Linked DNA regions of Homo sapiens: all the other regions are linked to region 1. The links come from fine-mapping of genetic effects on gene expression. A gene starts in region 1. Each other region holds a variant in brackets. All regions are shown on one strand. Distances are from middle to middle. Region 1 holds the start of RAB3GAP2 (RAB3 GTPase activating non-catalytic protein subunit 2). Region 2 overlaps RAB3GAP2 (RAB3 GTPase activating non-catalytic protein subunit 2). Region 3 overlaps RAB3GAP2 (RAB3 GTPase activating non-catalytic protein subunit 2).

Region 1 (10,812 bases):
GACCAGCCTGGGCAATATAGTGAGATGCTGTCTCTTCAAAAAACACAAAAATTAACCAGGCATGGTGGCATGTGCCTATAGTCCCAGCTATTCAGGAGGCTGAGGCGGGAGGATCGCTTGAGCCTGGAAGGCAAAGGTTGCAGTGAGCCAAGATTATGCCACTGCACCCCAGCCCAGGTGACAGAGCAAGACTCTGTACCAAAAAAAAAAAAAAAAAAAAAAGATAGTCCTCCCACCTTGTTTTCCTCATCCAATCCTGCTCTCACTGCTCTCACCCCATCTAGAATCCACTGGCACTTTCATCCCCTCCCTTCAATATAATTTCTGTGTGGAAGACTTCCATAGGTAGGTTCTAGCTCTGGCCTCTCCAATCCCAATTTGGAACTTCAGTTTATAAAAATAACTTAAAAAAAAAAAAACCTAGCTCTTCCACGGGCAGTTCAAATTTAACAAATCCAACACTGAATTTATCCATTTATCTTTTTTTTTTTTTTTTGGAGACAGAGTCTCACTTGCTCTGTCACCCAGACTGGAGAGCTGTGGCACAAACATAGCTCTCTGTAACCTCAAACCTGGGCTCAAGCAGGCTTCCTGACTCAGCCTCTCAAGTAGCTAGGATTATGGGCATGCACCACCAGGCCCAGACAATTTAATTTTAATTTTAATTTTGTGTGGAAATGGGGTCTCTCTATGTTGCCCAGACTGATCTCGAACTCTTGGCCTCATGCATTCCTCCCACCTCTTCCTTCCAAAGCACAGGGATTACAGGCATGAACCACTGTGCCCAGCCTCATCCTATTCTTGTTTGTCCCAAAGCCATTCCTCCTTTTACATTCTCTATCTTGGTTGCTGACATGACATTGCCACCTTTCCAATTCTTTGGACTGAAGACTTGAACATCACCTTGGGTCATATTTTCCCTTCCCACACCTATATCTAACTGTATACCAAAATTCTATTGATTCAGCCACCAGAGAGGCACTGCCTTTCCAATGTTATTACTTCTTGTTTAGAATATTGCTGTGACATCTAGAGGGGTCTATCTGCCTTCAGTCATCCCACATACTTCTACATCTTCTTCAAAATATCTTCAATTGGTTATACCTTGCACACAGAAAAAGACCAGACCATACTATGGTAACTGCCCAAGGGGTTCACCTTGCCCGCTACCTAGACAGAGCCAATTCATCAAGTCAGGGGAATTGCCAGAGAAAGAGTAATTCACGCAGAGCTGGTTGTGAGGGAGACCGGAGTTTTATTATTACTTAAATCAGTCTCCCTGAGCATTCGGGGAGCAGAATTTTTAAGGATAACTTGGTGGGTGGGGGAAAGCCAATGAGCCAGGAGTGCTGATTGGTCAGGGATGAAATCATAGGGAGTCGAAGCTGCCTTCTTGTGCTGGGTCAGTTCCTGGGTGGGGGCTACAAGGTCAGATGAGCCAGTTTATTGATTTGGGTGGTGCCAGCTGATCCATCAAGTGCAGGGTCTACAAAATAGTTCAAGCATTGATCTTAGGAGCAGTTTAGGGAGGGTCACACTCTCCAGCTGCATGACTCCTAAACCATAATTTTTAATCTTGTGGCTAATGTTAGTCCTACGAAGGCAATCTAGTCCCCGGGTAAGAAGGAGGTCTGCTTTGGGAAAAGGCTGTTACCGTCTTTGTTTAAACTGTAAACTAAGTTTCTCTCAAAGTTAGTTCAACTTACGCCCAAGAATGAACAAGGACAGCTTGGAGGTTAGAAGCAAGATGGAGTCGGTTAAGTTACATCTCTTTCACTATCTCAGTCATAATTTTGCAAAGGCGGTTTCACTATTTGGATTTTGAGGTTCTCTATAATCAAGAACCAATTTGTTTAATGCCTTTCCTACCTCTTCCACACTACTTCTTTTCCAAGGGACACCCCTAGGGATCTAAATTAATCTCTCCCTTATTTCTCCCACTGCCCTTTATCCAAAAGCCATCCATGGTACTCATCACACTCTGCTCTTAGAGCATTTGTGTTTGTCTGCTTTTAAGTAGTGAATCTCTGGATCACTTGTCCTTATTGCCTTACTGTGCTTACTACAGTATCTTTAATGTAAAAAGCACTCCATAAATGTTTGTTGAATAATAACTGTAAATAGCCCTTGCTTCTGCTCAATCTTCAATTCAAGGATGACCCTTAGCACAGCTATGAGGTAAGGCTTCAAGGACTCTCCACGCCCTTGCTATGCTCCCCTTACTTTCCCTTAGAGATGTCCAGTACCCTCACATTTTCTCCTGCTGACCCAAGCTTCTTACTAGGGTGCTTACACAGACCACTCCTTCTAAGCAATTCCAGCTCCCAGAACTTGCCATTCCCAGTCTCTTACCAAAACCTACATATCCCTGGGATGAACTTTAGAGCCCAGCCTCTTCATTTTATAAACCAAGAAACTAAGTCCCAAAAAAGTGACATGAATTCCCCAAAGTCATGATTCCAAGTCCATTGCTCTTTCTCTCACATCTGCGTTTAGTGCCCATCCTGCAACTCAACCCCTTCGCTTCAAGCTGCTGCTAAGGATTGGCAAGGGGCTGCTGCTTATCTTCCTCAGTAACACATCTCTCTCTTAACAACAGTCATCTGTGCTCTGACTCACACTAATGGATACTGGAGGAAGTTCACATTGGTACCTGGACTCATCCTGTTGTTATTTTGGTCACAGTGCTTTTCCTACCTCCTGAACCCAGACCTCGGAGAGACACTGTCAATGCTGGGATATGTAAGGCCTGCACATTTTTGCAATGTGCTTTCTTATGACTGTGGAATAAGTGATATTCACTGTCTGATGCAATCCTCCCACATGCCGCAGAAACCATGGTAGCAGAACTCCAGAGGCATCCCCCCCTGTTGCATTACAACTTCCTGGGGGAAGAGTTCAGTTCATGAATGTGTTGTAATTTCTGTGAAGGGTATCTAAAGTCCTTAAAAACATCCATGAATGATCCTTTTCAACAGTACTTGGAAGGAAGTCAGGGACTTCACCATTAAAACTGAGCCAACACAGTAATGAAATTCAATGACCACCACAGGAGACATATGAATGCCTCAGGGAAGAACAAAGGCCAGCAAAATCAGCCAACAGCAGTTACTTCCACAAAATGCATTTACCTGAATAGGAACTTGAATGGTTTTCAAGGAATGACAGTCTCCTTCCAGAAAGTGTCATGTGTTTGTTATTCGTCCAGTAACACTAAGAATCTAAATTTAAATTTTGGTTTAGTTTGGGATTGGTGCTGGATTTTAGGGAATAATCTTATCAGGGCTGGATTATTCTAGTTAGTGATGATCTGAGGAAACACTGCATTTCTTCAGATGGAAGAAGGGAGCACTGGCAGCTTGCTTTTTCTGAAAGCTTTGATTACAGAAGTATAGGTCCCTGATGCTTAAAGGGACCTTACAGCACATCTGATTCAACTGCCTTTTATAGGTGAAGAACTGATTCCTGTTAACCTGATAACATAGAAATTGCCTATCCTATTTTGTGAAAATCATCCTACTCTAGAAGTAGGAAATAATGGAGTAGGAACCTGGGCACTAAATTATAGTTGTTATATTATTAGGACTAAGTGTGTATGTCCACGGGCCTGACAGAAATGAATGCTCTGGACCCCATCCACTTGCCTTTCATTTGTTCCTGTGCCCTTTTTTCATACAAAGTGGATGGCCTCTTTAGGTTTCCTTTAGGAAATGTGTAAGTGCCTACAGGCCTTTGTGCTCACATTAAAATAATTTTTTTTGTTTTTATTTTTTGGAAAAATAACTTAAAGTCTGCTCAGAGACAGCTCAATTTCTTTATTTTAAAAATGGGATAAGACACACTATTTTTAGATGGCATTTGTGACTATCCAAATGAACAATGTAAAGTACTTTCAAAAATAGTGCTTTGTCAAAGAAACAAGTTATTCTATTTACTTTATGTATGCATTCCATTTATTTCTTCAGCAAATATTTATGAAGCACTTACTAGCATGATCACAATTTCAGTTAAATAGTTAAGTACAGTAGTCCCCCCTTTATCCATGGGTTCATTTTCCACATAATTATTCAATTTAATTATTAGTTATTGTTAATCTTTCACTGTGCCTAATTTATAAATTTAACTTTATCATATATATGTATAGGTAAAAACATAATACACATACATAGGTTTCAGTACTATCCATGGTTTGAGTCATCCACTGGGGATCTTAAAACATATCCCCTTGGATTAAAGGGAAATACTGTAATTAATTGCTTACTGCCTGTATCAGTCACTAGAATTCCAGCTTTCTGGGAAAAGGTACTTCTTCTCTTTTGTTCTCTAATGCTCAGCACCCTGCGTGGCTGGCATTTAAAAGACTAACAAATATTTGTTGAATGGATGGATGAATGCATGAATGAAAAACCAAATGAATAATGAAAACAAAAGTGTATAATACACTATAACACGTACTATATTGGGCTTGCGTAGTACTATGGGAATCTATAGTAGGAGCATTTAAAGCCAGCCTTGACGGGGCTAATCTCCGGAAGAGCAATTAATCTTTTCAAAATCCGACTCTTGCAGGATACGGTCCCCCACTGGCCTGCCACTAGTTTAAAACGAATTAGTTTCTGTGAAACATCAGGATCGTGCCAATAGTAGGGGACCAATAAGACTGAATAAGTCAAAGGGCTGCGCGGACAAGTCCAATTAGAACACCTCTGGCTAAAAGCCAGAATGAATGAAAGGGTTCATGCCTCGGCGTAGACACACAACTGGGACTGAAAAATCTGCCCCAAGCCTCCACGTCGACTTTGGCTCCACCTGCAGCGGCGGCGCCGTAGTCACGTGACCCGGGCCCCCGCGCCCTAGGCGCCTGGGCCAGCCTGCGCCTGCGCAGTACTCGGAGACAGCGGACCCGTGTCAGTGACAGCTTCCGGTTTGGTTTCTCCGCCTTCTGCTTGGCTAGAGCTATTGGGGCTCGGTGGCGGCCGCAGTGGGGTGGAGGGGGCAGGGCGTGGTGAGGTAAGGTGAGTGCCGTAGTGGGGTTCCCTGGAGCCATGGCCTGCTCCATTGTCCAGTTCTGCTACTTCCAGGACCTCCAGGCCGCCCGGGACTTCCTCTTTCCTCACCTGCGGGAGGAGATCCTCAGCGGCGCCTTGCGGAGGGACCCCAGTAAGTGCCTCTCTGGCCTCGCCCTTCCTTCCCTCGTCACCCGCGGCCTCTGCTCACGGGTTCGAGTCTCCTACTCGCTCTGCGCCTCCTGCCTCTGCCCTCTGGACCCCCAGTTCTCCCCGTGCCTCCCCTCCGCTCCGGGATGACACCCTGCCCACCTCGTCCTGAAGCCCCATTTGTGTTGTCTTCCTCTCGACCCAGCTTTTCTCCTTAGGCCCTCTGACCCCTGGCTAAAAACTGCGTCTTGTTTCCTCTCGCCTCTGCCTATCACCGCTTTCTCCCTCCCTCCCCCCACCCCCACACATTCCTAGCTTTCTCTCTGAGTATCTTCTCCGTCTCCCATCTTCAGCCTGGGGTCGTTCCCTGTTTCATGTTGCCTGCTCCGTGATCGCATCCTCCCCGTTCCTTGCCACATGTCAGCGCTCCACTCTGGTATTGCCCCAGCTCCCACTCTCTTCCATCCCGGAGACTGTGGCCTTCTGCTACCTCCCATTCCGAAAGTGTTGATCATCCCCCCACACTCTCCCTTCTTTCATCTGCATTTCCCCCATTCAGATTTTGAGAACAAATGGCTGACAAATGAGTGACTCTTGAGGTAAGACTCTCTCAAAGAAGGAAAATAACCTGTCAGGAAGTGAACGAGAATCTACATTAGGAACTAAAATTACAGTGACATAGCCAAGAAAGGTTAATTTGCTTTATTGAAGCCTTCCACCTATTTTTATCATCAAAGTGTTTAATAAGCCTTTCCCCAAGTAGTATAAAGTTCCAAGGCTGGTTTATTAGATACTATATAGGCTTTCAGAATTTCGTACATTTCATTTTGAAAGGGTGTGCCTTGTGTTTTATTTTATTTTATTTTATTTTATTTTATTTTTGCATTTCCAACCTGAAGCACATTTGGCTTTGTAGTACAGCGCTCTCACTTTGTGCTATACCGGAATGGTGATATAAAGCCCACTAAGCTCCTCTCCCTTTTTTAGAAAATTTAGAAGATATCAAATCGAACCCATCTGTGAATGATTGCATACTTTGTGCCAGTCATTGGTGCTACAAACCAAATAAGGTTGGTGGACCCTGCTGTAGGAACTTCTGGTTTACAGACAAATCATTAACTTCCATTCAGTGTGACTGAGATATACATGAGGCATTTTCTTGAAGTGGTGATACTTAAGCCTACCTTTGAAGTACTAGTTAGAGGAGTAAAGGAGCAGTAATAGCATGTGCAGAGGAAGGGAGGCCTGAAATGGCATGGTATTTAGAGAACTAAGAAAAGCTGAATGGCTGGAGAGGAGGATGGGAGAGGAAGAGTTGGGGCAATGAGGCAGTAGTAGTAATAAGGAGCTAGACCATGAGAGGCCTTGTGAAAATTGTGGCGTTTCTCTGAAAGTTTAAGTAGAGAAATGACATTGTCAGATTTGTACTTAATGTAATCAACAACATTTGTTGAAGACCTGTAATGTGCTCTGGTAGCAAAGTGGAGGAGAGATTGGAAGAAGGGAAATGGATTGGGAAGCTCTTCCAGTAATCCAAGCAAGAAATTATGTGAGCTTGAATTAAGAACCTTAGTAGGATGAAGATGAAGGACTAGATTAGAAAGACGTTAAGGAGTTAGAATCTGCAGGACCTTGTGAAGGTCTGGTGATGGGCATTGTAACTAGTAAGTGAGGGGGAGTTTAGGAAGTCTTTGGCTTGTGGTTTGGGCAACTATATGTAATAAGAGAATGAAGGATACAGATTTTCAACCTTTTGCATTTTAAATGTTTATGGTATGTCCAAGTAAGGACATCTGGTTGAACACCAGATATAGATAGTCTAAACAGTAGGGAGTACTGGGCCAGAGATGTTAATTGGGGAGCTAACAGCAAAAAGTGTCAGTTCAGTCTCAAGGATTATGTATGTTGTGAAATGCACTGAGTACTAAAGCTGTAAGCTTAGAGGAGCACTGGTGTTTAAAAGTCAAGTAGAGGTTACTGGGAAGAAGACTGAGAAGGAGTAAAAGAAAGAGGAAAATCATGTGAGAGTAAGGCCCTCGGAGCTGAGGAAGGCGAGAACTTGATGAGGGTGAGGAATGGTCAGCAGTTTTGCAAATGCAGCAGGGGTCAGGTAAGAAAAGGATAGAAAAATGCTTATTGGTTTTGAGAAGGTGGAGGTAACTTGGACCTTAGGACAGTTTCAGTAGGATAGTGGAGGCAGAAAGCATAGTTATAGGATAAGGGGTTAAAAAGTGAAATATACTATTTCAAGGAGCTTGGCTGTGAAGGATAGCAGATGCAGGATTGTAGATAGGGAATGTAGAAAAAAGGAACAGATTTTCTTTATCCTTCTACCACTCTCCTGGTCCAGGCCACCATCTTTTCTCAACCTGGGCTATGATATGATATGTGTCTTCTTCTAGCAATTCTTCCTGCTTTTGCTCTTGGTTTCCTGTAATAATTCTCAACAGTAGTTACAGTGAGCTTTTAAGGCATAATTTAGATCACAACATTGCCTTTTTTTTTGAGATGAAGTCTCACTCTGTTGCCCAAGCTGGAGTGCAGTGGCATGATCTCAGCTTACTACAACCTCCACCTCCTGGGTTCAAGTAATTCTTCTGCCTCAGCCTCCTGAGTAGCTGGGACTACAGGCATGCGCCACCATGCCCGGCTAATGTTTGTATTTTTAGTAGAGATGGGGTTTCACTATGTTGGCCAGGCTGGTCTTGAACTCCTGACCTTGCGATCCACCTGCCTTGGCCTCCCAAAGTGCTGGGATTACAGTCATGAGCCACCACACCCAGCCTAACATTGCCCTTTTAATAACACTCAATGGTTTTTGATTGCACTTAACGTAAAATCCAAAGTTCTTAAATGGTGTATAAGGCCCTTGAGACTCTGCTTCCTGCCATTTCTTGGACCTTATACACCTCTCCCCTTATTTCTTATGCTTCAGACGCTCTTTTTTGTTGTTAAACCAGCCAACCACATTTGTGGCTAAGGTTTTTGCCCTCACTGTTGTCTATGCCTTGGATGCTTTTTGCAGATCTTTGCATGCTAGTTGCATCTTGTCATTCAAGTCTCAGCTCAAATGTCAACTCAGGGCAGCCTTTTCTGACCACCTGATCTAGATCTAAAGTAGTCAATACAACCCCCTTGTTCCTACTTGTTGTTCTCAATCATATCATCCTGTTTATTTTCATCATTATATTTCTACTGTCCAGTATGGTAACCTCTAGGCACATGTGGTTATTGAGCCTGTGAAATGTGGCCAGTGCAACTGAGGAACTGAATTTTTAAAATTCAAGTTAATTTTAATTAATTTAAATTTAAGTAGCCAAAGTGGCTAATGCCTATAATATAGTATGGCACAGTTATAGGTGCTAAAACTCAGGTACATACAGATTGAATACTTGTCCAAGTTACATAGGCAGTTGGGGATATAAATACACCCCAAACATCTAGATTAATTTGCACTATACCTATAGATTTATAAATATGGTTTAATGTATTTCTCTTCTAAATCAAATTCTTGAGTTTATGTATGTTGATATTATTGTGGCTATGATCAGTTCATGTAGAAAATGAACAGAATGGACCTCTTCACCAGTGAGCCCCTTTGTAAAACCTGTACAGATGATCTCAGACTTATGATGGTTTGGCTTCCAATTTTTTAGCTTTACAGTAATGTGAAAGCAATGTGTACTTTGTAGAAACCATACTTCAAATTTTGCACTTTGATCTTTTCCAGAGCTAGTGATACAATGGGTAAGATACTCTTTTGTGATGGTGGGTAGCAGCAGCAAATATGAGAGACTGTACTCTACGGTATTCAAGAAGTACTGTATTCAAGAAATTACATGAGATATTTTCAACCCTTCATGATAAAATAGACTTTGTGTTAGAAGATTTTGCCCAACTATAGGCTAATGTAAGTGTTCTGAGCACTTTTAAGATAGTCTAGGCCAAGCCGTAATATAAAGAGTTTTGAACGTAAACTTTTGTACAGTGAAATTTTACAGAGAAAAAATGACATTAGCAGAGCAGGTAAATAGGACCTGACTTAAACTGCTGATGGTATTTGCCTTTGCTTTTCTTCACTTTATTTATTAATGTTATAAATGTTTATTGGGAAGCAGAAATCATGAGATCATCTTAAATTTTTTTAGCTGATATAGTTGTAATTTCTTAACCTAGCTCATCTCTAGAGGATATGTAAAAACATAAAACACCTCAATTACTTGTGAATTATAGAGGTGTATCAGTTGGTTTAAAAGTGCTTTTATTGGGCTGAGCTCTTGGAAGACTCAGGTCCTTGGGTCATAGGCATCACGGACCAATCTGAAGAAAACTGCATTTCAGGGCCTGTTGAGGCTAAAACTCCAGTTGGAGGTCCAGAACATGTTCTCGTGACTCAGCAATTTCCTTGTCAGAATCCATTACCTGCAAATAGTGGCCAGGCTCAGTGGGTCTTGTGTCCTTCAAATTCTTCGCAGCGTGTTCCTTTGCAAGCACAAAAGCTTGTCTCCAGTCACAAGCCAGTTCAGAATCAGAAGCAGAAGCAATTGCAGGCAACCAGTGTACCTCATCCTGCCTCCAGGCCACTGAATAACACCCAAAACAGCAAGCAGTCCCCGCTGTCGGCACCTGAAAATAATCCTGAGGAGGAACTGGCATCAAAACAGAAAAATGAAGAATCAAAAAGAGGCAATGGGCTTTGGAAGACCTTGAAATTGGTCGCCCTCCGGGTAAAGGAAAGTTTGGTAATGTTTATTTGGCAAGAGAAAAACAAAGCAAGTTTATTCTGGCTCTTAGGGTGTTATTTAAAGCTCAGCTGGAGAAAGCAGGAGTGGAGCATCAACTCAGAAGAGAAGTAGAAATACAGTCCCACCTCCAACATCCTAATATAATCAGACTGTATGGTTATTTCCATGATGCCACCAGAGTCTACCTAATTCTGGAATATACACCACTTGAAACAGTCAATACAGAACTTCAGAAACTTTCAAAGTTTGATGAGCAGAGAACTGCTACTTATATCACAGAATTGGCAAGTGCCCTGTCTTACTGTCATTCAAAAACAGTTATTCATAGAGACATTAAGCCAGAGAACTTACTTCTTGGATCAGCTGGAGAGCTTGAAATTGCAAATTTTGGGTGGTCAGAACATGCTCCATCTTCCAGGAGGACCACTCTCTGTGGCACCCTGGACTACCTGCCCCCCGAAATGATTGAAGGTCGGATGCATGATGAGAAGGTGGATCTCTGGAGCCTTGGAGTTCTTTGCTGTGAATTTTTAGTTGGGAAGCCTCCTTTTGAGGCAAATACATACCAAGAGACCTACAAAAGAATATCACGGGTTGAGAATTCACATTCCCTGACTTTGTAACAGAGGGAGCCAGGGACCTCATTTCAAGACTGTTGAAGCATGTTCCCAGCCAGAGGCCAATGCTCAGAGAAGTACTTGAATACCCCTGGATCACAGCAAATTCATCAAAACCATCAAATTGCCAAAACAAAGAATCAACTAGCAAGTATTCTTAGGAATCGTGCAGGGGGAGAAATCCTTGAGCCAGGGCTGCTGTATAACCTCTCAGGAACATGCTACCAAAATTTATTTTACCATTGACTGCTGCCCTCAATCTAGAACACTAAAAGAAATATTTGTTTTACTGAG
Region 2 (10,812 bases), 91 kb after region 1:
GAGGTTATTGTGTTATGATCGGATATTTGTCTTATCCCACATTCTCAGCCTACTTTTTGAACTATTTAATCTCATTAATTAAAACCCAACTTAATGTGCTAATATGAAAGGATAAATATGACCTTTAACTTCTGATAGTTGCTACTTTAGGCATGAAGAGATATTTTGGGACTGGTTATGAAGAATCTTAAATATCTATGGGGGTGGGGAGAGGGAGGTAGGGAAGGGTGGGTACTGTATTCATCTAGCAGGGCCTATAGATTCTGCCTGCCATGCACAAATGCAATAATTAAGGTATAACTAAGTTTTTGGCAGCTTTTGTTATTGACATGACAATAACCTCTGCTTTTCGTTTATGCCTATATAGTATAGGCATATTCAAACTCTTCTTATTGGTAAATAGCTTTATCTTTGTTTCTGTTTTGATTTGGCTATTCTGTTAAGTAGCAGTTGCCTTCTAGTTGTTTTATTCTCAGCCTGGATTTTTGTCATTTATGTCATATTTGGCATGACATGAAGTTGATTGTATATTACTTAACAACGCAACTTGAGATTTAATATATGTACACTAAAACATCTTAAATATAGAGCTTCCCTTTGAAATTTGGGGTAGTGAAAGTTTGGGCATAAATATAAGATTTAAAAAACAAAATCACTGCCTTATAATTACTAGAACTGTTCAATATCTTTCTCCTAGGCTTTGGAAAGCATTTTGGCAAGTGAACGTTTACCATTTTCTTGCCTTAGAAACATCACTCAGACTTTAATGGACACTTTAAAAAGTCAAGGTAATAGGGTTTGTACTGATTGGAGGTTATGTTCTTAACTCAAATTTTGTAACTCTGATTATAGAAAGCTATTGACTTTGTGATACCATCATGTTACTTTAATGTGGAAGTAATATAGATATAAGAAATTAAGAATCTTATTTATTCCCTATTTAATATATGTAGTTGATCTTCATCTAAGCTGTCTTTGAATGTATTGACTGTTATTGGGAAGTTGTTTTTAATTGTGAGGAAAGATGTCAGGATAGAATGATAAGTGGTTATTCTGATATAGCTTTGTATTAATGTTCTATCAGTGTATCAGTTTCCCTCGTGAACAGAGTTAAGGACTTCCAGAATCACAATCAACAATCAGATTATTATTTCTGAATTTTCTGGTCATTTTTTGATATTCAAAATTTGTCTGTACTATCACATTGTTCTTTAAAATCCATCAGTCCGTCAAAATGTATTTGTCTGAAAAAGGATTACACTTGAAACTTGAAACTGTGGGGTTGTAACACCATATTCCATCCAACTGAACTAGTAAAAATTCACTTTATTCTGAATTCCTAACATCAGTTAAATTGTGTGCAGTGGACTGATGTCATCTAGTTGTGACTTTTGTTTGTCATATTAATTATGTAAAACCAGCTTTGTGTTTTAGTTGTGTGTAAGACAGCTTAAAGTGGCTTAATACACAAATTATAATTTGTTCTTTCAGGACTTCAAACATGCTAATTTTGAGACTCTTTTTCAACCTTTTTTTTTTAACAGATACATAAAACTGACATTGGCAAATAGTGAACTCCTTTAGCATACACCACTTGTCAGAAATAAATCCCTCTTTTAAAAAGCGTGGTATACTTACAAAGCCCTCCCACCCCTCAAGGCATTCACAACATCCCAAAATTTATTAAATGAAAAGTTATCTTCCACTGGCCTGGTAGTAAACCAAACACCATTGTTGGAATTCCATAAAATCATCAGTTTCAAGTTCTACATAAACATAAGATTCCTAAAAACTTTAATCATTTTGTGTGGTCAGTTTTATTATGGCTATAAGAACTTGAACAATATTCCATGATACTGTATTTCAAATAAGATTTTGAGGGGATTATCAGTGTCTCCCTTTTTAAAGAATAAATATTTCTTTTATATTAGATATAAATATTCATACAGTATATGAATTATGTAGTCAGGGAAAATATTTTCAAAGGTATTTCCAGATAATTTCTTTAAATTTTAAGTATTAGATGAAGATATTTCCGCTTCCTTTTTTATCTCCCTACTTTTAGAGCATCTTATTTTATTTAAAAAGTTAGACATTTTGTCATGACAGAAAAATTATTTTTGCTTTCAAAACCTGGTATAGCTTAAGCATCTCAGTATTTAATACATCAGAGCATCAGGGAATTACATAATATTGAGAGATTTAATGAAAGCAAAGCCTGTTTATGAGTCTGTTAAATATATCTCTTATATATACTTTTCCTTCTGCCTTTTAGAACTTGAGTCTGTTGATGAAGGATTGCTACAGTTTTGTGCCAATAAACTAAAACTGCTGCAACTCTATGAGTCTGTCAGTCAATTAAATTCCCTTGATTTTCATTTAGACACACCATTCTCTGATAATGTGAGTAATCCCACATTTTATATTATATAAAATAATCTCTTTGATTAGTTTTACTTTTTAAAATTAGTAGTAAAGAAGTAGAAAATTAAGAATTTTTTTTAAAGCTTTAAAGGTATATTTTCCTTACCAAGCCCCCTGCTAGCTCTCTGTGCTTTGCTGCTATATTTATATTATTTATACAAGTGCTGAGATTATAGGCATAAGCCACTATGCCCAGCCATGATATGTTTTTGTACATATAGTATATAAAAATAGTTTGAAAGCCTAGCAGGTTGTATCCCTGAGAGCCACATACAGGACTTATATGTAGATACAATGAGAATATTTTTCTATGTTTTTATTTTATAGTGTTTACGCTGCTTTATAATTAAGCATTTAAGTTCAATATTTAGTTTCCTCAGAATAGTAAGAGTTGCGTTTGACACCCTTTTAAATTTTTTTCTGATTATACAGTAATACATGTTTATTAAAATTCTAGCATTTGCCAAGGCATAGTGGCTTGCACCTGTAACCTTAACACTTTGGGAAGCTGAGGTGCGAGGATCACTTGAGCCCAGGAGTTCGAGAGCAGCCTGGGCAACATAGTGGGACCCTGCCTCTACAAAAAAAAAAATTTTTAATTAGCTGGATGTGGTGGTGCACACTTGTGGTCCCGGCTACTCAGGTGGCTGAGGCAGGAGGATTGCTTGAGCCCAAGAAGTCAAGGCTGCAGTGAACCATGATTGTGCCAAGGCACTCTAGCCTGGGTAACAAAGTGAGACCCTGTCTCAAAAAAAAAAAAAAAATGCTAACATTCTAGAAGATAATAAAGTACCCTCAAGAAATATCCTAAAATGGTACTTTTAATACCATTTCTTTTAGTACCTACCTCTAGTACCATGTTTGGTTTGGTACCAAACATGCAGTGTTTCAAAATTATAGTTTACTTTATTTAAATAACTTCCTACTCATGAAACGTGATTTGTAAGTAAAGTTTTAAGCAGAATACATGATAGGTATTATATTAATTAAAAAGTCGACTTTTGCTTACAGCCTTGAATTTCAGTTCAGATAATGTGGGTGATAGATGTGGAATGTTGTTTTGTTTTGTTTTCTGTTTTAAAGGACTTGGCTCTGTTACTAAGGCTTGATGAAAAAGAACTGCTTAAGCTCCAGGCATTACTAGAGAAATATAAGCAAGAGAACACCAGGACAAATGTTCGATTTTCTGATGATAAAGATGGTGTGTTGCCTGTAAAAACATTCTTGGAATATTTAGAATATGAAAAGGATGTGCTCAACATAAAGAAAATAAGTGAAGAGGAATATGTGGCTTTAGGTAGGTAAAATAATACACTGGTCTTTGTATGCCTCTTCTTTTAGAAGAAAACATGGTAGGAACATATAGCATCTCAGAGATTCCATTTGTTTTGAAATTTAAATAATGAAAGGATTTAATGTACTGTATTTTTTGGCCAACAAAAGATACTCTGGTCAACAGGTTGTATTAATGAGTATACTAAAGAGACAATATTGGATCATGATTTGCTTTCTGCTTTAATAAATCAAGCAAATTGAACAATTAATTTCTCTTCCTTCATAATGTTTTGTTTCTCTGGAATTCCAGATTGTGATTCAATAAGATTGTTAGTCCAAATGGTAAGTAGTCATTGATTAATGTGCTTTGTTTTTCTTCTACCAGGTAGTTTCTTTTTTTGGAAGTGTTTGCATGGAGAAAGCTCCACTGAGGATATGTGTCACACTTTGGAGTCGGCTGGTCTTAGCCCTCAGCTGTTGTTGGTAAGGTTTTTTTGGTTGCTGGATGCTGTTCTTCCTTGTGAATGTCACCCAGAAGTGTCAGTCTTCTTTTTTTTTTTAACTATTGTCTTTTAGGATATCACAGAATGTCCATGAAAACTTTCTAAAAATGATCAAAGAAAATTTTAATCACCATATTTAATAGA[AG/G]TAATATTATTTATTTTTCTTATACCCTGTAATTTTTTTTTTCTTTTACTTTGAGAGAGAGAGAGAGTCTTGCTCTGTCACCCAGGCTGGAGTATAGTGGTGTGATCATCGCTCACTGTGGCCCCAACCTCCTGGGCTCAAGCCATCCTCCCATCTCAGCCTCCTGAGTAGCTGAGACTACTGGGCAATTTTTTTTTTTACTTTTGTGGAGATGGGGGTCTCGCTATGTTGCCCAGCTTGTCTCAAACTCCTGGCCTGAAGCAATCCTCCCCGCATGACCGCTCAAAGCTTTTGGATTACAGACAAGAACCACCATGCCTGGCCAATTTTCTGTAAATGTTAACAAGCATATCGTATAGTTGGCCTAAAATAAGTTTAGAATCTGTGTGCACCCATCTATATGCGTGCATTTACAGTGGAATTGGATCATCAGTAAAAAACTGTCATGTTACAATGAAAAATATCTTAAAAACAAAATAAGCTTCCCATAAAGCAATGTGGAATTGTTACCAAACATTTTCAGACTTTGAATATATATTATAATGTAATCTCTAATATAACAAATATAAAACAAAAGAATCATCCAAGGAGGAAATACAACACTAAATTTTTACCCTTTCTGAAAAAAACAAGGAAAGTTACCCCATCTTCCTTGTTCTTCTTTGTTATTACCTATCCCCTACACATGCATGCATACACAGTTGTCCCTCAGCACCCATGGAAGATTGGTTCCAGGAACCTCCCCCTCCATTACCAAAACCATGGATACAGAAGGTCCTGATAAAAAATGGTGTAATAAAAAATTAGCCAGGCATGGTGGCATGTCCCTGTATTCCCAGCTACTCAAGAGGCTGAGGCATGAGGATCCCTTGAATCAGGGAGATCAAGGATGTGCTGATTGCACCTCTGCACTCCAGCCTAGGTGATAGAGTGAGACCCTGTCTCTAAAAAGCAAAAAAGTTAAAATGGTGTGGTATTTGCATGTAACCTATGCACATCTCCTGTATACCTTAAATCATATCTAGGTTACTTATAATACTTTCTGCAATGTAAATGTGTAAATTGTTAAAACTGTACCGTTGAGGGAATAATGACAAGAAAAAAGCCTGTACATGTTCAGTATAGATGGAACCGTCCATCTTTTTTTTTCTGAATATTTTTGACTCACAGTTGATTAAATCCACAGATGTGGAATGCATGGATACAGAGGGCCAACTGCATACTCTTTCACACACCCCCATTTACATGTTATATTTTGGCCAGGATTTGGGCATCCTACCTCTGTGAGCTTGTTGATGGTTTAATGTGTTGTTTTTATTATGTATGTGTCTGGTTTTGGTATCTGGGTAATGTTGGCCTCATAGAATGAGTTTGGAAGTATTCCCTCCTCTCCAATGTTGTGAAATAGTTTGAGTATAATTGATATTAGTTCTTCTTTGAATGTTTGAAAGAATTCAGCAGGAAATTCATCAGATCTGGGCTTTTCTGTGATGGGAGACTTTTTATGACTGCTTCCATCTCGTTACCCATTACTGGTTTGTTGAGGTTTTCTGTTTCTCTACTGCTGTTGGCATAAAGCTGTTCATAATAGTCTCTAATGATCCTTTGTATTTCTATGGTATCAATTGTAATGTTTTCTTTTTTGTCTCTGATTTTATTTATTTGAGTCTTTTCTCTTTGCTTCTTAGTCTAACTAAAGGTTTGTTGATTTTGTTTATCTTTTTTAATAAAAACAACTTTTTTTGTTGATCTTGTGTAATTTTTTTATTCTCAATTTCATTTATTTCTGCTTGATCTTTATTACTTCTTTTACTAATTTTTAGGTTGGTTCTTGCTTTTCTAGTTTCTTGAGGTGCATTGTTAGATTGTTTATTTGGAGTCTTTTTATTGAGGTGTTTATTACTATAGACTTCCCTCTTTTCTTTTTTTTTGAGACGTAGTCTCACTCTGTCACCAGGCTGGAGTGCAGTGGTGCGATCTCGGCTCACTGCAACTTCCGCCTCCTGGGTTCAAGCGATTCTCCTGCCTCAGCCTCCTGAGTAGCTGGGACTACAGGCATGCGCCACCACACCCAGCTAATTTTTGTATTTTTAGTAGAGACGGGGTTTCACAATGTTGGCCAGGATGGTCTCGATCTCTTGACCTCGTGATCTGCCTGTCTCGGCCTCCCAAAGTGCTGGGATTACAGGCGTGAGCCACCGCACCCGGCCGACTTCCCTCTTAGCACTCCTTTTGCTGCATCCCATTGTTCTAGTATGTTGTATTTCCATTTTTATTTTTTCAAGAAATTTTTAAATTTTATTTTTAGTTGCTTCCTTGCCTCATTGGTTGTTCAGTAGCATGTCGTTTAATATCTGTATTTGTGCAGTTTCCAAAGTTCCTCTTGTTACTGATCTCTACTTTTATTCTGTTGTCAGATAAATACTTCACATGATTTTGACTTTTTAAAATTTGTTGAGAATTGTTTTGTGGCTAACATATGGTCTGTCCTGGAGAATGTTTTATGTGCTGATGAAAAGAATGTGTATTCTGCAGCAGCAAGTGAAATGTTCTATAAATGTCTATTAGGTCCATATGGTCTAGTATGTAGTTTAACTCTGATCTTTCTTTATTGATGTTCTACCTGGAAGATCTGTCCATTCCTGAAAGTGAGGTTGAAGACCTCTGTTATTACTGTATTGAAGTCTGTCTCTCCCTTTAGATCTATTAATATTTGCTTTATATATTTGAGTGCTCCATTGTTGGGTGCATATATACTTACTATTGTTAGATCCTCTTGCTGAATTGACTCTTTTTTCATTGTATAATTACCATCTTTGTCTTCTTTTTTTTTTTTTTTTTTTTTTTGAGACAGTCTCACTGTCGCCCAGGCGGGAGTGCAGTGTCATGATCTCGGCTCACTGCAACCTCTACCTCCCAGGTTCAAGTTATTCTCCTGCCTCAGCCTCCCCTTTGTCTCTTTTTATAATTTTCAACTTAAAGTCTATTCTGTCTGATATAGGTACAGCTTCTCCTGCTCTTTTTTGGTTTTCATTTTTATGGAATATCTTTTTCCATTCCCTCACTTTCAGTCTATGTTAGCCTTTATAGGTGAAGTGAGTTTCTTGTATGCAGTATACACTTTTATGTTGTTGAGTCACTCTATGTCTTTTTTTTATTATTATTATTCCTGGGCCTAAGCTATTATCTCCTCTCAGCCTTCCAGTCAGCCAGGACTATAGGTGCATATCACTGTGCCCAGCTCACTCTGTGTCTTTTAATTGGAGAATTTAGCCCACTTACATTCAGTGTTATTATTGATTGGTAAGGTCCTACTACTGCCATTTTGTTACTTGTTTATTAGTTGCTGTGTAACTCCTCTCTTTTTTCTGTCTTTTTTTTTATAGTTAAGTGATTTTCTCTTGTAGTATGTTTCAATTCGCTACTTTTGATTTTTGTGTATCTATTGTAGGCTTTGCACTGTGATTACCATGAGGCTTACAAAAAAAATCTAGTTACAACAAGTATTTAAAACTGATACCAGCTTAACTTTGATCACAAAACAGCAAAACCAACAAACCATAAAAAGAAAACCTATACGCATTAACTCTCTTCTCCCCCCATTTTAGCATTTTTGATGTCATCATTTTATGTTATTGTCTCTTAACAAATTGTCAGTTTTTTGATAGTTTTTTCTTTTAGTCTTCTTACTAAAGATATATGTGGTTTAAGCACCGTGATTAGAATATTAGTATGACAATCACATTAGCATCATTTTCTTTCAGTTTGGAGAACTCCCTTTAGTGTCTAAGAAATCACACATTTCTTATAGGATAGGTCTGATAGCAGTAAATTCCCTCAGCTTTCGTTTGTCTCGGGAAATCTTTTATTTCCCTTTTTCATTTCTAAGGAATAACTTTGCCACGTACAGTATTTTTAGGTGGCAGTTTTTTTCCTTTAACACTCTGAACATACTGCCCCACTCCCTCTTGGCCTGTAAGGTTTCTGCTGAGAAATCTGCTACCAAGCATATTGGATCTATCTTATATGTTATTTGCTTCTATTCTCCTGCTGTTTTCTAAATTCTCTCTTTGTCTTTGACCCTTATGAGTTTGTAAATTGGAGTATTCTTGTCTGAGTTAACTCGGATTGGTGACCCTTGACCTTCCTGTACCTGTATATTCTGGTTTGGAAAGTTTTCTGTTATTACTTATTTGAGTAAACGTTCTACTCCTTTGTCTTTCTCAGTTCTCTCTTTAACTCCAGTAACCCCAATATTTGCTCTTTTGATGTTGTTTTATAGATCCTATAGACCTTGTTCATTCCTTTTCATTCATTTCATTTCTTTCTTCTCCTCTGACTATGTATTTTTAAATAGTCTATCAACGAATTCACTGATTCTTTCTTCTGTTTGATCAATTCTGCTATTGATGCTCTATATTGCATTTTTAATTTTATTTATTTTTCAGCTCCGAGGTTTCTATTTGATTTTTTTCATTAGTATTTCAACCTTTTAAAAATTTCTCTGATAAATTTTTGAATAGATTGTGTGGGTTTTCTTAAAGTTTGTTGAGCTTCCATTTTGAATTCTTTGTCTGAGAGATCACACATCTCCCTCACTTTAGATTCTGTCTCTGGTGCCTTTCTTTGTCCATTTGGTGAGGTCGTGTTTCCCTGAATGTTCTCGATGCTTGTGGTAGTACGATGGTATTGTGCATTGATATATTAGGTATGTACTTTAGTCTTCACAGTCTGGCTTTGTTTGTACTTGACCTTCCTCAGAGGGCCTTCCAGGGATTCTAAGCTGACTGACTTTCATGTTCCCTGAGCTTGTGACCACTGCAACACTTGACATCACTCTAAGCCCAGGCTTGCTGCAGGTCTCTCAAGAGCTCTGAAGTTTATGTGGCTTTCTATCCTTCATGGACTGGGGGAAGACCCAAGGAGGGTACTGAGGCTATTTGGGAATACTGGCCAGGGACCTGGGTCCAGAAGTCTGTCCTGGTGGCCCCGACAGGTATGCATCCCAGCAGGTGTCTGCACAGGTGGATGGGTCCCCAGCTGCAGTTAGAGGGGGTAGAAGTGAGACTGGACCTCTTTAGGATCTGTGTGAAAAGGAGGCTGGGGGGCCTGTTTTGTTGGCTCAGATGGTTATGTGTCGCCCAGCAGGTTCCTGCACAAGTGAGGTAATTCCTCAACTGCAACAGGAGGGGCTTGAGCTGAGACTGGGCCCTCTTGGGATCAGCTGTGGGAATGGAGGCTGGTGTGTCTCATGTTGGCTCAGAGAGGCATGTGTCTTCAGCAAGTTCCTGCACAGATAGGATAGTTCTCCAGCTGCAGTGAGGGGGCCCTGAGGGGGATCTGCTGTGAGATAGAGGTTGGTGAGCCTGTCAGGGAGGCTCTGAGTCCTGGGCTGAGAGATATGGGTGAGTCTGCCTCTGGGTCCTTATGCAAGCAACTCTGAGCTGGGACCTCAGCTAAGGAAGGTGAGAGCAGCACCACAAGGCTACTTTCCAGCCCACTGCTGAGACCAGTGCTAGCGGGCAGACTAGCCTTTCTGCCAAAACACTAGTGTGTACAGTTCTTTCTGGACCCCATGGCAAATGGTTTTGGTGGCAGGATCATGGGCAAACAGGGAAGTAGCCAAGCCCCTTGTGGGGACTGGGCTGTTTCTGGGCTTCAATCTGGAAGTCAGTTCAGGGGGACAGATCAACCACCTTATTGTGAGAGAATATAAGTAGGTTGCCTTCTATTCCGCCATCTTGGTGACCTCAAGGTTTCTGTTACTCAAAATCTATTATTTAGACATCATCTGGTTATATGTCAATATATAACATATTTATATGTGAGATAACAGTTAATATTTTAATATGTGAATTCATAATATAAATATATTATGAATAATGTAATGTGGCATTCTTTGTTGTGACTGTTAGAATATCTTATTTTGTATTTACTAGTTATGGAGGTAGTTACCTTTATACACTAGACTCTTCTCCTGTTATATGTGTCCATATATGTGTTTCTATGTGGTAACTTAATTTATCTCTGTATTCACTTCTTTATTTTTCTTCTTTCATCTTAATGTTTCCTGCAATTTAAAATATCTATATTGCTTATAAGTGATTCTACAATTATATGATTATGTTCTGATAGTTTCTTTGGCATCCTCTATTTTATACTGATCTCCTATATACAAACAAAAGCTTGACTGTTTGGAAGTTTTAATGTTTATAGAAAACAGGAAAAACACACTCTAGGTTATAAACAGAGACTACCTGTAGGGTGGGAAATAGAAGGAGGTAACCTAGGGAGAAATAAGAAGCAAAGTTAAGCAGAGCAGGTTTTTTGTTTGTTTCAGAATTTTATTACAAGTGATGGTGGGTAGAGGAGAGGTTGGTTGGAGAGAAAAGTGGAATTCATAGTGTGAAGAGAGGTCCAAGGCATGGCATTTAATTTTTTTGGCTGCCTTAATATAAAATAAAC
Region 3 (10,812 bases), 79 kb after region 1:
AATCTACAGTTGCTGATGACAGGATCTAAAGTGTGACATTGAAAATAGATGATTTAAGTTATAGGAAGGAAAACATCATTGGTAGCAAGGATGGAAAGGATTGATCAGCCATTTCCTTACAATAAATTAGAATCCTTTAAAAAAATTGCATATCTATTGCAAAATTGTCCTCTGGATTACTGTGTAGTAATTTATACTCCCATGTATATTGCATGGGAGTTTAAAAAGAAGCTGTTTTAAAACTTAAATTTCAATTTATGTGCCATATAGTTTGCCCTTTGATCGTGTTTTGGTGGAGTCAGGCAAAACTTAAGCAAATTTTGTAATGTAGTGAAAACATTTTGTATACTGAATCATGGATTCATTCATGACTATGAGATAGGTGTTCTGATCTTTTATAATGGTCTAGGAGGTGGGAGGGGAGTTTAAAAAATAGTCCAAGGATTTGTTTGATCACTTTAATTCCTATAAAGCCAGTGAATGGCTTGCGTATGAACTCACTCAAAGAATTTCCTTTCCTAGGACACGTCTTAAGGACGAATGCATTTTTTGACAGTTTTCAGGCAAAGGGGAGGCCTGAAATATATGTATATGAAATTTAGTAAGGTCAGGCACAGCAGCACACGCCTATATTGGCTGGGCACAGTGGCTCACACCGGTAATCCCAACACTTTGGGAGGCTGAGGCTGGAGGATCACCTGAGGTCAGGAGTTTGAGACCAGCCTGGCCAACATGGCAAAACTTCGTCTCTACTAAAAATACAAAAATTAGCTGGGCATGGTGGTGCGCGTCTGTAATCCCAGCCATTCGGGGAGGCTGAGGCAAGAGAATCGCTTGAACCTGGGAGGCAGAGGTTGCAGTGAGCTGAGATTGCACCATTGCACTCCAGCCTGGGCGACAGGGTGAGACGCCATCTCAAAAACTAAAAAAAAAAGAAGTGAATTGGTATTTGGGGATATAAGTGGACTGTATACTTCTGGTACCTCTGAGTTTCATATCTGTTCAAAAAATTAAATTTTGTTTTTATGATATTCTATAGATTATGGAAATTATAGATGGAAATTTTAATATTTATTATTATTATTTTTTTGAGATGGGGTCTCGCCCTGTTGCCCAGGCTGGAGTGCAGTTGGTGTGACCTCAGCTTACTGCAACCTCCACCTCCCAGGTTCAAGCAATTCTCCTGCCCCAGCCTCCCAAGTAGCTAAGATTACAGGCACCCACCACCATGCATGGCTAATTTTTGTATATTTAGTAGAGGCGGGGTTTCACCATGTTGGCCAGGCTGATTTCAAACTCTTGACCTCAAGTGATCCAACTGCCTTGGCCTCCGGAGTGCTGGGATTATAGGAGTGAGCCACCATGCCTGGCAGAATATTTTCTGATGTTGACTTTGTAGCTTTTAAAATGACTTTTGGTTATTAAATAAAACTAAACATTTAGCATCTTAGAATGGAACTGAAGTAAAAATGTAATGACCGCAATAACATTGTACATTCAAATCACTTTTTTTTTTTTATTAGGTATTATGACTCTGTCCCCCTTTGATCAAATGAAGACTGCCTCCAATATAGGTGGATTTAATGCAGCAATTAAAAATAGTCCACCTGCCATGTCTCAGTATATCACTGTAGGGTCCAATCCATTTACTGGCTTCTTCTATGCTTTAGAGGTATGAGTTTTATCAATGATCATGAGTAAGGCTGCTCTTGATTTTACAATTTGTCTACAAATTGGATATGGTAACTTGCTTAGCCTTAGAAGATTAAGCAGTTTACATTTCTAAATTTCAATTGAAACTAAAATTAATCTCAACTAGCTTTCTTCTAAATTCTTTAGATTAACTGAAAAGGTACTACCATCAGTATAAAAGGAAATTCTTTGTTTCTGAAGCCCTGAGTTCTTTGATAGCTGAGATGTCTTTAAATATTGGTGCAATAGTCAGGAGCTCAGGCTTGTTAATGATGCCAGCCCACTAGGGATTTGAGTAAATGAGGAGTTGTAAAGACAGAACAAGCTGCCAACTATACTTGTTATAAGTGGTGAAAATTGCTTCCTAAAATAGTGGAAAGTTGAGTGTTAGATTTGGCAGCTCTTGTTTCTCACTTAAAAAGCATGCTTCTCAGAATTGTCCAAAATATCTTTTTACTTTTATAAAAATGTGTGTGTGTATATGTGTGTGCATATATATATATTTAAAGAGAGAAAGGAGCCAGTTATGTGTAGGTGTGAAATCCATAGTCCAGCTAGAATAATGTAATCTTAATGTCCTAGTTTAAAATTTATTTGAATGAAATTACAATTTAAAGAGAGAAATTCTAATGGTAAAATAGACTAATTGTGATTTTATTTTTAAACTATAGAGTTAAAACTTTTTCTCATATTACGCCTAAAATAAACTTTTTACTGTACTCTGAAAGAAGCTGAGTTGCTAGTCCAGCCTTTACAACTTTTCAAAGCATTTTAAAGTAAGCTTTATTTAGAAAGTATGTTTGTTTCTTTGTAAGCTACTAAGTTTTCTCTTTCAAATGTTCTGTTTTTCAGGGAAGCACACAACCATTATTATCCCATGTTGCACTAGCAGTTGCAAGTAAACTCACTTCTGCTTTATTTAATGCTGCCAGGTAATTACTTAACAATTAAAATAACAAATATCTCATTTGTATCTAGCTTGCTTTTAACTTATATTTTGATAGTTTGCACTTTAAAACCCTGGAAGCTCAGTTTTATATTCTAAGTTTTCTTTCTTTTCAGTGGTTGGCTTGGTTGGAAAAGTAAGCACGAAGAAGAAGCTGTCCAAAAGCAAAAGCCGAAGGTTGAGCCAGCTACCCCATTAGCTGTAAGGCAAGTCTGTCATGCTTCCCAAATTTTAGTCCTTTTAGAAAGGTACTGTTAAATGTATGGTCTTTCCGTGTGCTTGGTTGATTTGCTGATCTTGTCTTTGGAACTTCTGAAAGCCATTACAGTGGAATTTCTTTTCCCACTAGAATGTAAAACTCCATGTGAAGAGTGATTCTTACCTGTTTTGTTCACAGCTTTATCCCTGTTATATACTAGGTATTCAAGATGTATTTCTTGAGTGTGCTTTTTAACAAATAAACTTAGCTTAGTTGTAGGAGAATTAATTCAGTGATAGCTGTTAAATTTCTTTTAAAAGTTTAGATAGTTTGTTACTAAGTTGTATAAACTTTAAAAGTACTTAGTGATTTCTTTTTAAAAAAGTCATCCTAGTGGATTGCGGTGGCTCACGCCTGTAATCCTAGCACTTTGGGAGGCCTAGGTAGGCGGATCACTTGAGGTCAGGAGTTTGACACCAGCCTGCTCAACATGGTGAAACCTTGTCTCTACTAAAAATACAAAAATTAGTCAGGCATGATGGCATGTGCCTGTAATCCCAGCTACTCCGGTGGCTGAGGCAGGAGAATTGCTCAAACCCGGGAGGCAGAGGTTGCAGTGAGCCGATATTGCACTGTTGCACTCCAGAGTGGGGGACAAGAGCGAAAAACTCCATCTCAAAAAAAAAAAGTAAAAGCAGGAGTCCTGTATTCAGGCACTCTTTAAACAGACTCCTGTCCTGTGCTTCCTTGTTTACTTCAGTAGTGCTTTAGAATGTGTTAGTATATTGGTGAGTTTTTTTTGGTGGAGGGAGCATGATTTTTGTTGCTTTTTTTTTTCATTATTATTTTTTAGATAGGAGCATGTTTTCTAATGTTTGGTTTTGTTTTAAAATCATTTTTTATTACCTAATATAAAGTACCACCATGAAGGGAAATAGAACACCTCCTCTTTATGGATGTTCTTCACCTAAGAAGAGCCAACTAATTATTAAAATTTATCGAAGTATAGCTTCTAAGTTTTTTTTCATCTTTTTAAAAAATACATTGTAACATATCACATTTCCTAATATCAAGAGTCAATAAATTAGTCACATGGCCCTGTGCGTCTCTAATAGATGTAACAAAGGTTGGGCACCTTTGTTTCAGGGACTTTTCTCTAAATGAGCTTTCCTAGTTCTCTTTTAGTACTTCTTTACTTTTATTTTACTCACAATTCTAATGAGGTTGATTATAGAACAACAGAAGTTTAGAGATAACTATTTAGAAAAAGGAAGGTTTTTGCTTCAGGCAGATTGGTGTCAGCAGGATGTCATATCTTGCAAAAAAGAGAAAGATTAAGAAGAAGAATTTAAAATAGACAAAAGATGCCTGTGTGGGAGCATATTCTAAAATTTAGTTGATGGTGAGGACATTGTTTTCTGTGACATGCCTTTTAATCAAATATAGTTATACTTTATATTCTCTAAAGGTATAGGGTTGTGGGTATCTATTGAAAACCTACATAGGACTGTGGTTTTATTTCTTTTATGTATTTTATATTACAAATGTCAGTTGTGATTAATAAATTAACTATTAATCCAGGTAAAATTCATATTTCTTTATATAAAAACAGATTCAGCCTATTTCATTTATGCATTTCGTTATTCTGTTATATGTTTCTGAACTGGAATGTGATTTGAGCATTTTATTTTCTTTTAAATATCAGATTTGGACTTCCAGATTCTAGACGCCATGGTGAAAGCATATGTCTGTCTCCATGTAACACACTGGCAGCAGTAACAGATGATTTCGGCAGAGTTATTTTATTGGATGTAGCTAGAGGAATTGCAATACGCATGTGGAAAGGTACTTCTTACAAAAATCCAGAAAAACAATTAATTCACTTTTTACCCCAATAGTTGAGCAATGTTATCATCCTTCAGCTTCTGGATGATAACTCTGTTTAATTCTTCATGTTTACATTTTCTTTTTTTGACATGAACTCAGATCAGCAACCACTTGGTCCAGTAGTCAGTTGATACATCTTTTAGGTTTGATCACCTCATAGCCATGTTTAACCTTTGCCTTTTGCACTTTCTTTCAATTCTCACTGTTATTGTCAATTTCTGAGTTCAGTTTCTTGCCCCTGCTACATTTATTCCCCTTCACAAAGCCATTCTTGAGCCAAATGTTCTCCCCAAATCTATAATGCCAAGTCTTTCAGATTTAAGATAGCAAAACCCATCTTCACTGACTTGACTTTTATATCCATATGCTTGGGTCAATCCACCTGGTGTGTCAATAAGTATGTCACTTAGGAGTTTCCTTCAGCTATTATTAACAGACCTGAGTAACAGACCACAGTATCTTCAGGAACCCAGTCTTCTTCCTTGTAGCTTCCCCACTCAAGGTTCTCATAGACAGCCCTCTTATCTGCATTCCGGGAAGGAAGCAGAAAGGAAGAAGGCTTCTCCTGGCAACTGAGTCAATCTACTTTGAAGATATTCCCCGAAGTCCCTTCAACCATTATCTACATTAGCCAGGACTTAGTGACATGGCCTCATCTAACTATAAGGGAGACTTGAAAATATCTTTTAACTAGGCACATTGTGAATAATATCTCCCTGACTAAGAAAGAAGGGATGATTACATTATTTAGAATCATCTGGAATAGTAACATGTCAGCATAGACCACAATTTATGGTGCAATCTTGTCTATCCTGTAAAATGTGAGGAATAATG[AATGG/G]ATTGAGGTCATTCAATTACTCTGGACCAGATTGAAGCCACTATCACCTTCTTGCCAAAGAACTCCTGCAGTGATAGACAGAGGCAGTCTTTACCTACTACATGTCTCAGTATCTGTAGAAATAGTTTTAATACTGCAGATACATCATTTCTCCTTGGTGTTTGTCTTCTGAAACAATATCAAAGGTATGTTCTCAGCAAGACTTTTCTAAAATACGAAGACGAAGCTGTACTGACTGCTCCAAATCCACTATGGCAATCTTATTCCTTGCATCATTGCCTGTCTGCAGCTAGTACAGCCAGTTTTTCTTTCCATTGTGTCCTTGGAAAGAAGGATCAATTGCCTATGTGAGGGACCACCCTAAAATGGAAAATAGCATCAGCTACGTCTCCCATGCAAGAGCTTCCTCCCATCGTCCTGTAACCCATATTTTCTATCTGCATGTCACCAAAAGGCTTGTGTGGGAAGGGAAGGGAATGAGAGCAGGAGGGGTAATCAGGTGGCTTCAATTATATCTATAATCTTTTCTCTTTTTTTTTTTTTTAGAGAGTTTCGCTCTTGTTGCCCAGGCTGGAGTTCAATGGTGCGATCTGGGCTCACTGCAACCTCCACCTCCTGGGTTCAACTGATTCTCCTGCCTCAGCCTCCCAAGTAGCTGGGATTACAGGCATGCGCCGCCATGCCTAGCTAATTTTTTGTATTTAGTAGAGACAGGGTCTTACCACGTTGGTCAGGCTGGTCTCGAACTCCTGACCTCAGGTGATCCACCCGCCTCAGCTTCCCAAAGTGCTGGAATTACAGGCATGACCCACTGTGCCCAGCCAATATTTTCTTTTTAAAGAGAAAAAGTGGTCAGAAGTAAATATAGCAAAATAGTAAGATTTGATAAGGCTGGGTGATAGACTGGTTATTATTTATTATCATTTTTTATTTAAGATATTCCATAATAAAAAATATACTTTTATAGCTTTTCTTACCCCACCCCCACCCCCACCCCCACTATTCCAGAGTACTTCAGGAGGCTACTATGGAACCTAGATTAAGTAATTAACTTCCCTTTACCTCTGTCTCTAAGGGTACCGCGACGCACAAATTGGATGGATTCAAACTGTAGAGGACCTCCATGAAAGAGTGCCAGAAAAGGCAGATTTTTCCCCCTTTGGAAATTCTCAGGGTCCAAGTCGAGTAGCTCAATTCCTTGTGATCTATGCGCCAAGAAGGGGAATTTTAGAAGTGTGGAGCACACAGCAGGGACCTAGAGTAGGAGCTTTCAATGTGGGGAAGCACTGCAGGTAAGCTGCAAATGCTGGCATTGTGCTGGTTACAAAATGAAATATAGGAATGCTTTTATTAAAATAAAGCTTTACTAAAGCTGCTTATTAGATTACAAGTTTGAGAATTACAATATTCTTTATTGTGGTTTTTCCTGTGAGTGCCTGGCATGTACTTAAGTATTTAATAACAAAAAAAAAAAATTAAAAATGCCATGATAGACTGCTGAATTAAAGTTAGCTTGTTGCTAATGTTTGTCCCTTACTTATGCTGGGAAGGCTCAAAAGGAAAGGTTCCTTTTGCCCTAGTCATAAGTGAGGTGAATGCTTTGTTTGCCATTGAAACAGGGGCCTGATTGTGTTCATTTAATTTTTTAGAATCTTTCAACAAGGCAGAACTCTGCTGGTTGAGCCCTGCTTTACTTATGTACTTGCTATCAGTATTTAGTTGCCTTATTAATGCTCCTAAATTGATAATAATGTTGGGTTTCCTAGCTATAATAAAAGCACCTTTTGGCATTTCTCCTTGTTCTAATATTTTTACCATATTGGTATGTGATTTCTTTAGGCTGCTGTATCCTGGCTATAAAATAATGGGTTTAAATAATGTTACCAGTCAGAGTTGGCAGCCACAGACTTATCAGATCTGTCTGGTTGATCCAGTGTCTGGAAGTGTGAAAACAGTGAACGTTCCCTTCCATTTAGCACTGAGGTAAGGTGTGTCCAGTGTTGCTGATTGACGCTCCTCTGCTAACTTTTCCTAGTTCCTAGGTTTGTTGTACTCTCTTTTGTAGTTGCTATTTTGTTGTTTCCTTTGTCTTTAGACTGATATCTTTAAAGTTAAATAGGAAATATATAAAGGAAAAAAAAGTTGGAGTGTGTCAGAATTAGAAAGAAAATAATTTCACATTCTGTAATAATTTGTTATATTTATTGGTTTAGTGATAAGAAGAGTGAACGAGCCAAGGATATGCACCTAGTGAAGAAACTAGCAGCCTTACTGAAAACAAAATCTCCCAATCTTGGTAGGTATTCTCTCATACAAATAATAAAGCATATTGTTCTATCATCTTTTAAATCAATAAAATATTCTGAATGGAGCAATCAAAATAATGCATGGATGAGCTTATTGGAATTGCTCTGTAAGGCTGAAGTGTGCCATCTAGAGGGTGTTATAATTCATAACAAGAAAACATTAATGTGAGAGAACCCAAAAATCCTTTAGACTCACTGATAGTACAGATATGTTCATTTTCTTTCAGAATAATGTTTCACTGTTATAAAAATTAAAATTTTACTTTGATTATTTTTTTCTTTATAGATTTGGTTGAAACAGAAATAAAGGAATTAATTCTTGATATTAAATACCCTGCAACCAAAAAACAAGTAAGTGTATATAATACACGAACTTTCCTGCTAGTAGCTATAATACATCCTTCTTAAGAAAATCTTTATTTTCCTATTTCCCCCAAACATGAGAGGCTGAAGTCTTCTTTTCACATTTTTATTGTTTATCCCTTTCTTTATTTTCAGATAGAAGTTCCTGTTGTCTCTTTAAAAAAAAAAAAAAAAATTAATATTCATGCCTGTAACTGTAATCCTAGCACTTTGGGAGGCCGAGGCAGGGGGATCATGAGGTCAGTAGTTCGAGACCAGCCTGGCCAACATGGTGAAACCCCGTCTCTACTAAAAATACAAAAAAATTAGTTGGGTCAGTATTGGCGGGCGCCTGTAATCCCAGCTACTCAGGAGCTGAGGCAGGAGAATCATTTGAACCTGGGAGGCGGAGGTTGCAGTGAGCTGAGATTGCACCATTGTACTCCAGCCTGGGTTGCCATACATCTGAGTGTGTTTTATATACACATACCTACACATCCCTACATTATATATATTATATATATAAAATAGTAAATATGTGTGTATGACCACCTACCTTAGGAAATAAAATCTTACCAGGAACTCTAAAGAGCCCTGAGTGTCCCCCCTCAGTCCCATTCCCTTCTCCCATCCCTAAGGTAACTGTAATTTAGAATTTTGTGGTTCTTTCTTTTTCTTTACTTTATAGTTACGTCATTCCTGTGTGGCTCCTTTGAAACCTGTTGATGCATTTCCTGCCTTTTCAAACTTTATATAAATGCAGTCATGCCCTATGTCTTCTGTGACTTTAGTTTTTCCTTCAGGATTATGTTTCTGTGTCATTCATATTGGTGTATGTAGTTATAGTTATAATTGATTCATTTACTATGCCATACAAATTCTGCTCACTGACTAGAATTTATTTACACTCCTGTCAGTGAACGGTTAGGTTGTTTCCAGATTTTTGACATTACAAATGATGCTATGCTTATCCATGTACATATTTCCTCATTCACATATGCAAGAGTCTCTCTGGCGTTTATACCTAAGAGTGGAATTGCTAGGGTGTGAGCTTCTTCAACTGTACTAGTTGATGGCAAATTGTTTCCCAAAATAGTTGTACTAATTTATATTCCCACCTGTTCTGTATGAGTCCCTGTTACTCCACAGCCTCAATATTCCATGGTATTGCCAGACCTTTACTTTTTGCCAGGCTCGTGGTTATAATATGGTCACCACTGGTGATTTCTTTTACTCCCACTCCTCCTATCCAAACCCCTCATAATGCTATTCAAGTCCTAACTCCACAAATTCTTACATAATGCTTCGATCCCCATGGATAACTCTGAACTCCTACTCTACTTTCAATCAAAACTGGATAGTTAATGACTACTTATTTTCTAATTATTTCATGTATGTTAATCATAGCTTCCCCGACTTTTTTTTCTTTAGGTCTTTTAAGCTCCTTCAAGTAGGAACCTTACCAAATACTTGATTTTTATAATTCACAGCATCTAAAATAATGCTACTGTGAAAATGTAAGAAAAAACTGTATCACAGGTTTTTTCTTTTCTCTTACACAGTCACTCGACACTTCTGCCACTAGATGTAGGGTTTTTTTTTTTTTTCCCACACACCAGTCAATTTCTTTGGCAGATTCTCCAGCTAACACCAGCTGGTTATTCTCTAATTCAGTTCGATTCTGACACCATCTACCTGGAGATAGCATGAGATCATCACGACAGGTTAAGAGCTCAGTCCCACAAGACTTCTACCTACTTCAGGTACCAGTCACAAGTAGTTGGTTGTCAGCTATATTTCTGACTGTCTAGCTATAAATTAGGGTTACTATGACCCCCTCTTTGCGGTTGATGAATTTGCTAGACCAGCTCACAGAACTCAGGGAAACGTTTTACTTGAACGTTTACCCATTTATTATAAAGGATATTACAGAGGGTAGAGATCAACAGCCAAGTGGAAGAGGTGCATAGAGTAAATCATATGGGAAGGGTTGCAGAGCTTCCATTCCCTCTCCTGGCAAGCCACTATTCAGGAACCTCTACACGTTCAGCTATCCAGAAGCTCTTCCAACCCTTGTCCTTTTGGGTGTTGATGGAAGCTTCATTATATAAGCATGATTGATTACATCATTGGCCATTGGTGATCAACTCAGTCTTCCAGCTCCTCTTGGCTCCCCAGAGGTCAGGGGTTGGGCTAAAAGTTTCAATCCTCAAATACATGGTTGGTTCCACTGGTAACCACCCCCTTATTCTGAAGCTCTCCAGGAGCCTGCCATGAGTGGCCTCATTAGAAAAAAAGAAGCTTCTATCACCCAGGAAATTACAGAGGTCTTAGAAGCTCCCCATCAGAAATGGGGGGTCAAAGACCAAATGTTAGAACAAAAGGTTCTCCTAGCACCTCTGTCTACAAAGGGATTAAGAGCTCTGACTGATGAACTAGGACAGAGACCAAACACTAGAACAAAAGAAACTCCTAGCACCCCCATTGTTCAAGAAATTATAGGAACTCTGTGTCAGGTACTGGGGCCATAGACCAATATGTATATTTCTTATTATTTTATAGCTACATACATGGGAGAATTCAGTGAATAGTGATACATGGG

Evidence for each region.
Region 2: its variant is fine-mapped to the expression of RAB3GAP2 in fibroblasts (GTEx, PIP 0.93).
Region 3: its variant is fine-mapped to the expression of RAB3GAP2 in whole blood (INTERVAL, PIP above 0.99).

What each region holds. Positions count from the first base shown.
Region 1 is chr1:220,266,571-220,277,382 of GRCh38, reverse strand. RAB3GAP2 (RAB3 GTPase activating non-catalytic protein subunit 2) reads left to right here and starts at 4,930. Exons shown (of 35, transcript NM_012414.4): 1 at 4,930-5,160. The coding sequence starts at 5,046. It also overlaps the pseudogene AURKAP1. RefSeq lists enhancers at 6,335-6,836, 8,918-10,117.
Region 2 is chr1:220,175,627-220,186,438 of GRCh38, reverse strand. It overlaps RAB3GAP2 (RAB3 GTPase activating non-catalytic protein subunit 2), which reads left to right. Exons shown (of 35, transcript NM_012414.4): 18 at 698-788; 19 at 2,276-2,403; 20 at 3,508-3,721; 21 at 4,085-4,182. Among named protein-coding and RNA genes, the nearest start is that of MIR664A, 20 kb to the left of the region's middle. The variant AG/G (reference allele first, on the strand shown) is at 4,347.
Region 3 is chr1:220,187,110-220,197,921 of GRCh38, reverse strand. RAB3GAP2 (RAB3 GTPase activating non-catalytic protein subunit 2) reads left to right here. Exons shown (of 35, transcript NM_012414.4): 10 at 1,524-1,672; 11 at 2,545-2,624; 12 at 2,755-2,844; 13 at 4,543-4,682; 14 at 6,638-6,854; 15 at 7,402-7,545; 16 at 7,776-7,858; 17 at 8,155-8,219. Among named protein-coding and RNA genes, the nearest start is that of MIR664A, 8.1 kb to the left of the region's middle. The variant AATGG/G (reference allele first, on the strand shown) is at 5,559.